2 separate regions of the Homo sapiens genome follow, and region 1 is linked to region 2. A link means that fine-mapping ties the variant in region 2 to the expression of a gene that starts in the linked region. Tissue or cell type: whole blood. Region 2 holds a variant in brackets; the other region holds the start of a gene. All regions are shown on one strand. Distances are between the middles of the regions.

The links. PIP is the estimated chance that this variant, and not a neighbour inherited with it, causes the effect.
Region 1: YEATS2 starts here. The variant in region 2 is fine-mapped to the expression of YEATS2 in whole blood (TOPMed, PIP above 0.99).

Annotation. Positions count from the first base shown.
Region 1 is chr3:183,696,391-183,699,074 of GRCh38, reverse strand. It overlaps YEATS2 (YEATS domain containing 2), which reads right to left and starts at 1,278. Exons shown (of 31, transcript NM_018023.5): 1 at 1,082-1,278. RefSeq lists a silencer at 904-1,373.
Region 2 is chr3:183,771,317-183,774,000 of GRCh38, reverse strand. YEATS2 (YEATS domain containing 2) reads right to left here. Exons shown (of 31, transcript NM_018023.5): 16 at 1,438-1,696; 17 at 207-368. Among named protein-coding and RNA genes, the nearest start is that of YEATS2-AS1, 38 kb to the left of the region's middle. The variant G/T (reference allele first, on the strand shown) is at 1,222.

The DNA of each region.
Region 1 (2,684 bases), 75 kb after region 2:
CCTCGTAGGTTCCTCCCCAGCCCTCTTCCTCTACATAGCAGTCGGATCATGCTACTCGCCTTCTCAAAACCTTCAAAGGCTTCCCGGGAAAAACTAAACTCCTTATCAGGGCATCATCTGCCCTATCTTTTAAAGAGTATACACAAACAGGAATATACATCCAAGGGTAGTATCTCTAGATCGTAAAACTGCGGGCATTTTTCTCTGGCTTTGCTTGTATTTTTAAATTTTTCTACGCTGAATACCCTCTACTCATTAAGAAAGGGGAAATGATATTGCTGAATTCTATATAATATTATACCGCATTTTTTACATGTGAGCGAGAAAAGGGAATGGAAAACGTGGGTCAACTCTGTAACTGCTGAATGCTTAGATGAAAATACTAGCCAACATCAAACTAAAAAAAAATGATGTGTCAGGCCTGTAAGATTGCTGATGGCATTTCTCTTCCTCTGGTTTCTATTTCTTAACATAATCACATTCATGATGGAGAAAACCTCATTGTCTTCTGCAGTCTGGCCACAGCCCTTCAAGCCAGCCTTTCCTGCAGGAGTCCTCACTTTCCGAGGCTTCCACTCCGCCCCGCACTGCCCGCAGCTCCGGCGCGTTGGCCCCGGCCCCATCCCTGGACCCCCAAAGCCTCTCTGACCCCTCCCCTCCATCCCAGGGAGGCCCGGTGGGGATGGCGACAGGTTGGAGGGGCATTCCAGGATCCTTTCGGTAAACCCACGACTTTCTGGTGCTGGGGCCAAATCTTGCCTCCAAGGCCAAGAGCTTAACATCCTAAAAGCTCCGGCCGCTGTGGCTCGGGGTCCCGTATCCCCTCAGCGCAGCGCCCCGCTGAAGAGGAAGCCCCCAACTCACGTTCCAATTCCAGGCTCCCGCTTCTGCGGCTCCCCGGCCCGCACCTGGGATCCTCCCTGCCCTCCCCTCGGCCCCGGGGCCTCACCGGGTCCCGCTGCCGCGCTGCCTGCCGATGGGGGAGGGGCGCGCACGTGCCCGCGCCGCCCCCGCCCAAACAATGCCCCGGAGAGCGGGGCGCGCTCCCGGCCGGTCCCTTCCTGCGCCCGCCAACACTCACCCTTTCTCCGGGTCTCCGGCTGCAGCGCGGGCCCCGCCGGCCGCCGCGAGAGAGCACGGCGAGGTGAGAGAGCGGGCGAAGCCCCGCGGAGCTGCCCCGCCACAAGGCCCCAGCGACCCCCGCAACCTGCGGAAGCACACGGCGCGGTGGAGCCCGCCCGGCGCGTTCCGCCCCGCACGTCAGCAGCTGGGCGCGTCGGGGCGCGCGCGGCGGCGCGCGCGGCCTCGGGGCGGAGCTCCCAGGGATGAGGGCGGGGCGGGGCGGGGCGGGGCTGGTCCGGGCTGGGACCCCGGCCCGCGAGGGCACTTCCTGGGCAGTGTGGGCGTCGATTCTTGCAAAGGCACAGTCGTCCATCACTTTCCTGCCCCAGAAGATGGCGAATTTCAACCCCAAGTTTGACAGAATATTCATTCTGCCGGCGTGTATGAGCTTCCCTATTAATCACAATAGTGACTATGATGTTTGTGTGTGCCATCTTTGTGCCAACCCATGTGCTAAGTGCTGGGTATACAAAATAACAGTAGTTATTTCTAGCCCATTTTACAGATGAAGAAACTGAGGCAGGGAAGGCTTGAGACTTATCTCAGTCACACTAGCTAGTGACAATCCAAGTCCAGTTTTCCACCTAAATATCACTTGAGGCCAACATTCTCTTTCGTTGTAACTCTACCACCCTACCCAAGACCCTGTAATCTCTCTGCCCAAGACTATGAATAGCCTCCCAACTGGTCTTGGGGAACTTCTGTTCCCCTTCAATCCCTTCTCACTGTATAACGATTTACTACTGGAGCTGAGTGGTGGGTTTAGGAAGTTCACTTTTTTTTTTATACTTTACATACATGTTACCAAATTTTTAATGTATTTAATGTTTTTATCAACGCATAATAAATATAAGTGGTGTTTTGTTTTTTGTGTTTTTTTTTTTTTTTGAGATAGAGTCTCCCTCTGTTGCCAGGCTGGAGTGCAGTGGCATGATCTTGGCTCACTGCAGCCTCCGCCTCCCGGGTTCAAGCGATTCTCCTGCCTCAGCCTCCCAAGTAGCTGGGATTACAAGGCGCGCGCCACCACGCCTGGCTGATTTTTGTATTTTTAGTAGAGACAGGGTTTCACCATGTTGGCCAGGCTGCTCTCGAACTCCTGACCTTAGGTGATCCACCCGCCTCAGCCTCCCAAAGTGCTGGGATTACAGGCGTGAACCACCACCCCCAGGCTAATTTTGGTTTTTTTAGACAGGTCTCACTATCACCACAGCTAGTCTCACACTTCCGGGCTCGAGAGATCCTCCTGGCTGGGCACGGTGGCTCATGCCTGTAATCCCAGCACTTTGGGAGGCTGAGGCGGGCGGATCACCTGAGGTCAGGAGTTCAAGACCAACCTGGCCAACATGGTGAAACCCCGTCTCTACTAAAAATACAAAAATTAGCCAGGTGTATTTGGGCATGCCTGTAATCCTAACTACTTGGGAAGCTGAGGCAGGACAGTCACTTGAACTCGGGAGGTGGAGGTTGCAGTGAGCCATTGCACTCCAACATGGGCAACAAAAGTGAAACTCCATCTCAAAAAAAAAAAAAACTAAGAAAGGCTTCCTTGAACCTTAAGCTAA
Region 2 (2,684 bases):
CTCTGATTGCAAACGCTGAGGAGCAAACCCACTTCTAGTTAAATTATCGTATGTGTTAAATCCATCTGAGCAAATGCTACCATTACACCACCCAACAGAGTTACAGAAATGCTTCCTGAAACAGGTAAGAACTGCCCTCAGATGGACAAGATGAACACACATAGAGAACCAAGAACCAAATGATTCAACCCAATGGTTTCACTAACTAGCATTGTTCGTAGCTCGCAGGATGGCTCCTTGAGGGATCAGCAGCAGTTTTCCTTTTCCTGAAGGGTTCTTGCTGTTTGTAGTTAGGTAGAGTTTAGTGCCAGGAGGCAAATTTGCCAAGTTGGCCAAATTAGTGGCTGGTAGCTGCAACGTTGCCATTACTAAAATGGTAAAGGAGAAAAAATTGTAAGATAAATTGAAACTAAGGGCAACACTCTAAAATTAAAATACAAGGCAATAAATTCTTATTTTAGAACACTAACAAGCAATAAATTCAAAGTTTGTTTCCCAGATGCACAATGCTTTAAAGACTGATATTCTTAAATATCTTGCTAATTAAAAAATAATTTATAGACCAGAAGAGCCTGCCAGAGGCTCTTTATATCTGTATATAATAGGATGATCGTACGTCCTGGTTCTGCCCAGAACAGTTCTAGGTTACACCTGTCCCACTATAATTATTAATAATGACTCTTTTTACTCTCCAAAGTACTGTGGTTTGGACGATTAATGAAATAATCACCCTGTCTATGGAGGATTACATATTTTCCCCCATTTGTTTAAAGTCAAAGTTAGGGCAAATGTGTGCTCCTAACTGGCAAGTACCATTGGCCCTCTGTATCTGTGGATTTCACATCCATGGATGTAACCTACCTCAGATAAAAAATATCCATATATTTGGCAGACAAAAGGATGAGTACATCTGTACTGAACATGTACAGACTTTTTTCTTGTCATTATTCCTTAAACAACACAGTGTAACAACTATTTACATAGCATATACATTGTTATTACATTGTTATTTACATTGTTATTAGGTATTAAGATAACCTAGAGATGATATAAAGTAAAGTACATCAGAGGATGTACATAGGTTATACGTAAACAGTACAGCATTTTACACAGGGGACTGTGGATTAGCATCTGTGGATTTTGCTATCTGCAGCAGGGGGTCCTGGAACCAATCCCCCACAGTACTGAGAAATGATTTGTTCGTGTGTGTGTGTGTATGTG[G/T]GTGTGTGTGTGTGTGTGTGTAAATTTAAAGCTAAATACTCACAGACCTTTATGTAAAATGTCCCATAAAAAAGAACAAACATTTCAATACACTTCTTACAGCATCAACCTAACTAGGCTTTCCTAGACCAGATCAAATAGCAAATAAAATCACTAGCAAAGGAAATTTTGGACAGAGCTTCTGCTGAAAGGGCTCCCAGTGATGATCCGTTTTACCTGAACCCTGGGATCCACTCTTCTGAGGACCAGCGGCAGTAACCTGGGCCTTGGTTAAGGTCTGCACTGGCTGAGCAACAATGGTTCCTCCACCTCCACTCACAATTGCTTTGGCAACTCCTTGGGTTACAACTTGCTTTGGCCCAACTGCTTTGGAGACAGAAGAGCTGGCCTTGGCTACCAGGATCTGGCCACCACTGATCGCCACAGCCTGCTTCACTGTTGAAGGTAAAGCAGACCCAACTGGTACCCCGACAACCTGTTCAAAACAGAGCAGAGTCCAACGGTGCTTCGAGAGCTCTTAGAACAGCAGTCACCGTTTTGGCAGAGAGCAAAACAAAGGCCTGCACATAATACATGCAGCCTAATTCAGTCATCTAGGAAAGCTACCTACACAGGTGTGAACGGCAACTGTATTTCTTACACTTGGGTATTACAATAATAGAAGCTTAACAATTGTTGTCTTGCCTCAGCTACTTTTTATAATTTACTTTAATAGAAAATTTGGGAAATTCAGAAGTATAAAGAAAAAAGTTTGGCCGGGCGTGGTGGCTCATGCCTGTAATCCCAGCACTTTGGGAGGCCAAGGCAGGAGGAGCATTTGTGGTCAGGAGTTCGAGACCAGCCTGGCCAACATGGTGAAATCCAATCTCTACTAAAAATACAAAAATTAGCTGGGCATGGTGGCACACACCTGTAGTCCCAGCTACTCTGGAGGCTGAGGTAGGAGAATCCCCTGAACCTAGGATGTGGAGGTTGCAGTGAGCCAAGATCATGCCACTGCACTCCAGCCTGGGTGACAGAGTGAGACTCTGTCTAAAAAAAAAAAAAAAAAAAAAAAAAAATTAGCCAGTACAGTGGCACACATCTGTAGTCCCAGCTATTCAGGAGGCTGAGGCAGGGGAGGATCCCTTGAGCCTAGGAGTTCAAGGCTGCACTGAGCCGTGATCACACCACTGCCCTCCAGCCTGGGTGACAGAGCAAGACCCTAAGAAAAGAAAAAAAAAAAAAAAAAAAAAAGGCAAGAATAATATTTAACTATTAAAAAAAAAAAAGACCCCAGTACCCAAATAATGAAAATTAGAAGTATCTAGTTCCAAAAGTAAAATGAATTCTTTTAAGAAAATACTCAGGAGTGTTTTTAAAACAAAGTCAACAGTAGGATGTTAAATTAAACACTGAATGAATGGCAAACTGGAGCAGTGTTTCCCACTCCCAGCACCTTATTTCATAAAAAGAACTTCTCA